Regions from separate parts of the Homo sapiens genome. Here region 2 is linked to region 1. The links come from fine-mapping of genetic effects on gene expression. Tissue or cell type: whole blood. Region 1 holds a variant in brackets; the other region holds the start of a gene. All regions are shown on one strand. Distances are from middle to middle.

Region 1 (4,391 bases):
AATGGCATAAACCCGGGAGGTGGAGTTTGCAGTGAGCCGAGATCACGCCACTGCACTCCAGCCTGGGTGACAGAGCGAGACTCCGTCTCAAAAAAAAAAAAAAAAAATCATGTATCCCCAAAATATGTACATATATTATGCCTCAATTAAAAATTGTTTTAAAATAAAATTAATTAGGCTGGGTGCGGTGACTCACTCCCGTAATCCCAGCACTTTGGGAGGCCGAGGCGGGCAGATCGCCTGAGGTCGGGAGTTCAAGACCAGCCTGGCCAACATGGTGAAACCCCATCTCTACTAAAAATAAAAAAAATTAGCCTGGCATGGTGGTGCGCGTCTGTAATCCCAGCTACCTGGGAGGCTGAGGCAGGAGAATCACTTGAACCCAGGAGGCGGAGGTTGCAGTGAACCAAGCTCGCACCACTGCACTTCAGCCTGGGCAACAGAATGAGGCTCCCTCTAAATAAATAAATAAATAAATAAATAAAATTAATTATAAACAAAACAATTGTGGGCAGAGAGAAAAACAAAGCAATAGTAATAGCCAGGTAGTTGGAGGGGGAATGACTAGGATTAGATAAACAAAGATGGAAACAGAGATGGTGATGACAATGGGGAGGGAAATGTCAGTGATGTCAAAGTCTACATGTTTGAGTGTTCTGTCTGAAACATCTTCTAAGAGGTGTACATGTATTAACTCATTTAATCCTCACAATAACACTATGAAGCACAGGTACTATTATCAGCCCTATTTTACAGATGAGGACACTGAGGCACAGCAAGTCAATGGCACATCTAGGACTGGAATCCAAATAAATAGTCAAATACCAGAGACCATACTCTTGACTACTTTGTCAGTGACACAGGTAGAGACAAAAGGACGTGGAGCTGGGGACAAGATAGCAGATGAAGCACACCTAGCGACAGAGAGATGGGGACAAGAGTCAGACACATGAGGAAAACAGCCCAACAAGAGAGATGGTGACAGAGAAATAGAGGTAAAAATTGGATATAGAGTAATGAGAGAGAATCAGACAGGGAGAAGGAGGCAAGAAGACCAACATAGGAGTGTGTGTGAGAGAGGGAAAGACAGAAACAAGAATGTAAATGTTAAGAGGGAAAAAATGAAGACAGAGATACAGAGATAGGAACAGAAAGGTGAGAATAGAGAAAGACAGTGGTAGCGGGGAGCAGAGACAGATGAATGCAGCAATGCAGAGATGAGGACTGAGAGAGACAGCCAGAAATAGGATAAATTGGGACAGAGTGATGGAGACTTCTGGAAATACATAAAAGAGGCCAAGGAGCCAAGGGAAATTGAAAGGAAAACAGAAAAGACAGAAATTCTGGAACACATAGAAATTTAGAAACAGGCAGGGTGCGGTGCCTCACGCCCAGCACTTTTGGAGGCTGAGGCAGGCAGATCACTTGAGGTCAGGAGTTCGACACCAGCCTGGCCAACATGGTGAAACCTCGTCTCTACTAAAAATACAAAAATTAGCTGGGCGTGGTGGTGCATGCCTGTGATCCCAGCTACTCAGGAGACTGAGGCAGGAAAATCACTTGAACCTGGGAGGCGGAGGTTGCAGTGAGCTGAGATCACACCACGACACTCCAGCTTGGGTGACAGAGTGAGACTCCGTCTCAGAAAAAAAAAAAAAAAAAAACAGATGAGAGAGAACAATGTGGTCATATATATAAGGACAGAGACATGGACCAAGATGAGGATCATGAGTTAGACTCAGACAGGATGGAGACAGGGTAGCCAGCAACATAACTAATAGAATGAGAGAACAAGAGTGAGAGGGGAGAGAGTTTGAGAAAGAGAATAGGAGAGACAGGAAAAAGAAGCAGCCAGACAGTTGTAAACAGAGAGACAAGAAAAAGCAAAATAGAGACAGAGATAGGGGATGTCTGAGAGGTGGTGACAGTGATGGCTAATTGGGAGGAAGAGAGACAAAAACATGAAAGAGAAATAGTGGCCGGGCACCGTGGCTCATGCCTGTAATCCCAGCACTTTGGGAGGCTGAGGTGGGTGGATCACCGAGGTCAGGAGTTCGAGACCAGCTTGGCCAACATGGTGAAACCCCGTCTCTACTAAAAATACAAAAATTAG[C/T]CAGGTGTGGTGGCGGGCACCTGTAATCCCAGCTACTCGGGAGGCTGAGGCAGGAGAACTGCTTGAACCCAGGAGGCGGAGGTTGCAGTGAGCTGAGACTGTGCCATTGCATTCCAGCCTGGGTGACAGAGTGAGACTGTGTCTCAAAAAAAAAAAAAAAAAAAGGGAGAGAGAGAAATAGAGACAAAAGGATTAAATCTTTCTGATCCAACAATCATTCACAAGTCTCTTGGCTATATCAGGGTGAGCACTGGGCCATATGGGGCCCACTAGACTATGAGTTCAGGAAGGCAAGGCCCAGGCCTTTGTTATTCCTTACTGTATCCTACACTCATGATAGAGTGCCAGTCACATGGAGAGCTCCATTTATTAAACATTAGGCACCATGTCCTGTGCATGCCTTTTCGTGGATTATGTCATCAGAACCTCACAGGTCTGATGTAGTAGGTGTTATTATCATCCACAGTTTACACATGGGGAAACTGAGACTCCAAACAATGAATAACTTGCCCAACATCACACAGAGGAGCTAGGAGTGAATGAAGCTCCTGCCCGGACCAATGGTGAGAGTATATCATAAACCAAGGATTGGGATGAATCCTTTCCCATGCACTGAAGATACAAAAAGCCAAATTCCAGTCTGCTTGCTTCCAAGGACTACATGTTTGACTACAATGCCATACTGCTTCAATTGAAGGTTTGCTGACAGACTAATGGAAGACTGCGGTCTCTAGGGTAAGTGGGTCCTGACTCCTTGTACTCTGGAGCTCCCTCCTTCTAGTAGTTGAGGCAGACCTACCTAGCTTAGAGAGACTGGGAAAGCTCAGAGAGACTGGGGAAATGGCAGAAATAAAGCCCTGTGGGAAAAACTCAGCCTGGGAAAATCAGAGAAAGCTTCCTGGAGGAGGAGGTAATTTAAAGAGGCCAGAGGTAGATTTACATAGAAATCAATGAAGCTTAAGCTTCAGGGCTCCTCCTTTGCACAGGTCTCTTCCAAGGCCCTGTTTAATGAACAGTGAACAATCATAGTACTGAAGATTTGTCATTCTACAAAAAAATTAAAATGTCCTGAAATTTTACAGCTCATATATGAAAGAAACTAGACAAGGGTTTTCCCAAATTTGATAGCAGTCCTAAACATGTATAAAATATTATTATTATATGAAACTGAAACTTTGCTAAACTGTCAATAGTAAAAAACAAATTTCTATCAACCATGCTACTAAAAAAGACTAATTTTTTTTTTTTTTTGAGACTGGGTCTTGCTCTGTCACCCAGGCTGCAGTGCAGTGGCACAATCATGGCTCACTGCAGCCTCAACCTCCTGGACTCAAGGGATCCTCTTGCCTCAGCCTCCCAAGTAGCTGGAATTACAGGCAGGCACCACCATGCCTGGCTAATTTTTTAATTTTTTGTAGAGACAGGTCTCACTATGTTGCCTAGGTTGGTCTCCAACTCCTGGGCTCAGCCATTCTCCCACCTCAGCCTCCCAAAGTGCTGGGATTACAGGCCTTAGCCATCGCGCCTGGCCCTCTATTTTCTCTATCGCAAATGACCTTACTTCATGCATCAGTGAGAAAATAGAAGCCATCAAACATCAAGAATTTTTTACAGGGCCTTTATCTTCCCACCACTCAATCTGTAAAGTTACCTGTATTTGCATTTGTCTTTTTCTCATTCCTTCCTGTTACAATTAAGGGTCCAGGGACCCTCTGAGGCTCAGTACCCTAGATCCCAACCCCAACCTTTCCTTTCCCTTGTGTTAGTGCCTTTCTCTCTCTCTCTCTCTCTCTCTCTCTCTACTGGATCATTCCCAGAAGGAAACATAGTCCAGCATCTCTCATCTTAAAAAAAAAACATTATTTGACCCTCTTCCTATGATCATGCTATCTCCCTAGGATCTATTTCCCTTCACAGCCATGTTTCTCAAGGGAACTGCATACGCACATAACCCCACTTCACTGGGGTGGGAGGAAGTGTTCCTTCTAACCTCAGTGAGGATCCTATAACAATCCGGCCCTCTAGGCAATTAGTCTTATTTTTTTAATTAATTAATTTATTTGTTTTTCATGATATACATTATAAATTTTATAATATACATATCTGTACAGTTTGAATAAACAATTTAAAAAATCTGTGTCCCTATCACCTAGCTTCAATAAGAGATCATTTACTAATGACAAAACTCCTTGTACGACTCTCCCCAGTCATGTCTCCTTCACCTCTGTGACAGGTAACTGCCATCCTGAATTTTTGATTTTTCATTCCTTGCTTTTCT
Region 2 (4,391 bases), 26 kb before region 1:
ACTCCATCTCAAAACAAAAACCAAAAAAACAAAAAGTTGCTGTGAAATTCTATGAATATTCATTAAAAGCACAGGATTGGGAGGGGTGGTAAAGGAAACTCACTGTGTCTAAGTTTCATCATGATGACCAGCTTGAAAGCAGATAGGTTCAAATCTGCTTGCTCTCTTCCTGTCAGAATGGGAGAAGAAGCAATTTGAAGACAGCTGGGAATCACAATGCCACAAGCCCCCTCCTAAGTCCCCTAAAGGTAAAATGTTAAAGAACATTATGAGGAAGGCGTAATAATTAGGAAAACTGGGAGAAGCTGGAGCTAAAGCCTCATATGGCTGAGTCCACACAGAGAAGGCAGTGTCATACTACCCAAAGGGAGGAATAGGTCTCAACCTCATCCGGGGTGGAGTCAGTGGCTCAAAGCCACTGGGCTTTGAGCCCAGTGGGGTCAAATGGGGTCAGATGGGGTCTTTGGTCCTTATTCCTCCACACTGTAGTGTTATATTCTAGGTAGGGGACTAGTGCTCAACACCTCCACACTGAGGGGAAAGGGACATGCAAGGATGGTCTATTTCTATATGGGGTGATAATAGTGCCTCTTTTCCCAAGTAGGGGATTCTATATCTCATCTACCCTGGGAGAGGTGGTGGGGAAGGGCGTAAATAGATCTCAGGAGTCTACCCTGGGGAAAAGGGGCCTGAGAACAGGGATTCTTACCTGAGTGTCTATATGGATTGAGATAAGTACAAAATCTTGGAGGAGGGGGTAAAAATCTGTGCCTGCATATGCCTGGGGTCTATACCTTGGTGATTTGGGTTGGGGGGATTGCCATCTGTCCCTCTACTCTGGGGTGCAGAGAAACTGGGGAAACCCACAAAGTGGCTGTGTGCATCTCTGCTGCATGGGGAAAGAATCACAGATCTGTTTATCTCTAGATTGTGGGGATGGGTCCTGCGTCTCTTCACCCTGGAGAGGGCTGTGGTACAGGATCGATATGCCTGATTCCACAACTATGCAGCTTTGAATAAGCGGGTCTGCACCTTACCTGCAGTGAGCTATTCTGGACCCTTCTATGGAAGGTGGACTGTGACAACTTTCATCTTTTATGCTGGTTGAAGTCAGCGGCACACTAACACTGAAAGAAATAGGGGCTCTGGTTCTCTGCATGGGTGGTGTGTGGAGGGGGCTGGCAATGCAGCTATAAATTAATAGATCAGCCCTAATACTTGGGGGTGGGGGCGTCTGTGATTCTACCCTGGGTGGAGAGAAACAGATCTGAGCTCCACTACCTTGGGTAAAGGGGAGAGACCATACGCACTGAACTGCCAGGTAATCAGCGATGTCACTCCCTCTCAACATTACAGGGAGGGAGACCTGCATATCTGCTCCTGTGGGGTATCTCCCTTGCTACATTTAGTGATTCTAAATCTTTGGGGGAGGTAGGGGGAGGTAGGGGGATGATCTGTGTCTACCTCAAAGGGAGAGGAACACATCTGAGCCCCTCTACCCCCACGGCCCCTCAAGGGGCAGACCTGACTGTCTCTTCATGGATTAAGGTCTGTTCCTGTTTGCTTCGAAGCATGTTGGGTGCTTCGAAAAATTACACATTCGGTAAAACGGGGGCTACGGAAGTAGGGATCAGGTCTGATTCTCCACAATGGGGACTCACTCTAACCTAAGAGGAGGGGGCAATTGGCTTAGTTGTCCATAAGCTGAGGCCTGTAACTGCAACCACTTTGGGGACGGGTGAGTTGGGGAGCGATACTGAGGGCTCTGAGTCTACGCGTATGGGGAGGAGGTGCCCTCCCTCTGTATATTAAATGTTTCTAAGCTCCTCTATGCTGGTATGGGGGCAGATACATCAAAGCCTCTGTCTGTCCTGAGGAGGTGCCTCGAGACGGCTGTCTAGAGCCAAGCCAAGGAAGTGCCTTAAGTCGGGAGAAGTCTGCGCTGCTCAGCTGGGTGGAGGGAGATGTCTCTACACGGTTGGGGTGGATGTCCCCCATGCCTTTGGTGGGTCGACTCCTGTCTATACAAGGTGAATGCAGAATGAAGCCTCACTATCTTGAGGACGATCAACGCTTCACCACACAAGTGAAGTTTGTGCCTCTCTACACAGTGTGTCCCGGGTCTACACCTTTCTAGGTGGGATGGGGCAATGCCCCTCTCCCGGCAAACTCCACTCCGCGAAAAGGCAATTCGGCGCGTCTCCACGTGTGCCGCGATCCCTGCCCCTCTTCCGGTCCCTTCTACCCTGGAAGGGATCCTGCTGTTTACCTCTCTATTCCAGGTTGGCGGGCATCTCTGGTTTCACATCCAATAGACGATCCTAACTGCCCGGCCGTCTAGGTGAGCGCACATTGTGAGAAAAGAGGAGAGAAGTTTCTTACTTACACTTCCGGCGGGGATCTGAGAAGCGAGGGCAACACGACAACTCGGTTGAGCGAGCAGAAACTCTCGCGCAGCTAGGCTCCGACTTCCGGATCCCAGGCCGGCGGCGCCCGACTCCGCCCACCGTGCGGTCTCCGCGGGGGGGGGGGGGGGGGGGCGGAGCTTCTGACTGACAGCTCACGCCCGCCCGTCCCTTCTTCGCGACCACGCTGGCCCCGCCTCCTGCCTGCCCCGTAGTTAAGGAAATAGCGGAGGAGGGAGAAGGAGGACGGGGAAATGACCGGGAAGAAGCGGCGGGTCGACTGGTGCGGCCATATACCTTACTTGCAAGCCAAAATTTTGTCTGCGGGCATCTGTCTGGGGTTAAATATGCGTGCTCCCAAATCTCAATAACCAGGCAGTCACCACGCCCGAATCAGACAAGGGTGGGGGATGGTGTCTTTGTCTGCCTGGAAGATGGCGACAGCAGGGTGTGAGAAAATGGCCGCCTGGGTCACGTGTCTGGCCGAGTATTTCCCCACCTGAAGTGAATTGGTTAGCTATTCCCAACCACCTTCCCGGGTCCTTGAGCCCCAGACCATCCCTGAGCACTCCTAGCTTTTTCTGCATACGTTCAGATCTATGGCCATACCCAACCCGAGCTGGAGCAGGAGCCAGAACGACTAGAAGCCTCTCCCACACTAGAAGCCTCTCCCACCCTTTTGCCTTCTTCCCCTCCTACTCCATCCTTCCCTCAATCCCGGAGCAGCGTCTGCAGAAGGGAATGAATTTATATCTCTGGAGTGGGGCAAGTAGGGGTTTCTGAAGCCATCTCAAGGAGCTGGCTGGGAAGTGAGGTCTCCCCCACAAAATAGTAAATATTAGTCTGCAAATGTTTTCTTCTTGATGGTTTAATTCCAGCCCCTCCTCTTCCTCAAGCCTAAACCCTGGGGTGGGGCACAGAGTAGGTGGAACTCTGTGCCTCCGAGGGTGGGTTTGTTTCTCCACTTCAAGCACAGACGGGCTGAAAATGACTCCATCTGTCCCTTTATCCCTTACATAAACAGGACTCACTACCTCTCTACATCGTTGGAGGGCTTCTAACCTCTCATCCTAGAGACACATGAAATTCCTCTGGACCTGAAACCAGCCCTGACCACTTTCACCTTTCCCCCTGCATTTGCAATTTTGCTCTGTTTCTCTAAGACCTAACTCTTGTCACTTCGATGAAACCTTCTCTGACTTTCGCAGATGAGTTAGAAACCCAGAGCACCTTACCTATACAGCTAAGCTAGCACTTATCACAATACTGTAGTTGTTTATGTGACTGTGTCTCCACAGGAGGGTGAACTCCCTGAGAGCAGGGGCCATGTATCTTCAAGCTTTCAACAACACCCAGCACAAGACTGGTATGAGGCAGGCTTCAACAACTGTTTGTTAAATGGGTGAGTTTACAGGCCTGCACCACAAAAAATGGGAAATGGGCTGTTTAGTAGATGGCATTGGGAAATTTGGCTCTCCATGAAAAGAAATATAAAACTGGATCTCTATTTATTCCACCTAAGAGGGTAGACTGTGAATGTGAAAGGTAAAACTATGAAGTTAATATATGCAGGAGAATATCTTTGTGACTTGTGACTGGGGAAGGACTTTTTAAACAAAATCCCAAATGCACAAGATATAAGGGAAAAAATACAATGAAATCTTGTGGAAACTAGTTATTACGACTTTGGAAAACAATTAGGAAGTATCCAGAATAGCTGAAGATGACCCTGGGACCCAGCAGTTCTAGTATTGGAGATGATTGATTAATAGGTAGATAGATAGATAGAGATCACCTCTAAACTTTAACTCCTAGAGAAATTCTTATACACTTGCTCAATGAGCATGTGGAAGAATGTTCATTGCAGAACTGTTTGTAATAGAGAAAAAAATGTGAACAGCCCAAAATTCCACCAACAGGAGAATGAATAAGTAAATTATGGTATAGCCATATGACAGAATACTATGCAGAATACTATAATGAAAA

The links.
Region 2: GNL3L starts here. The variant in region 1 is fine-mapped to the expression of GNL3L in whole blood (TOPMed, PIP above 0.99).

What each region holds. Positions count from the first base shown.
Region 1 is chrX:54,502,525-54,506,915 of GRCh38, reverse strand. No RefSeq gene overlaps it. Among named protein-coding and RNA genes, the nearest start is that of FGD1, 8.5 kb to the right of the region's middle. The variant C/T (reference allele first, on the strand shown) is at 2,114.
Region 2 is chrX:54,528,298-54,532,688 of GRCh38, reverse strand. It overlaps GNL3L (G protein nucleolar 3 like), which reads right to left and starts at 2,470. Exons shown (of 16, transcript NM_001184819.2): 1 at 2,270-2,470; 2 at 104-169. The coding sequence starts at 122. RefSeq lists enhancers at 2,065-2,324, 2,335-2,394, 2,845-2,894, 2,549-3,069.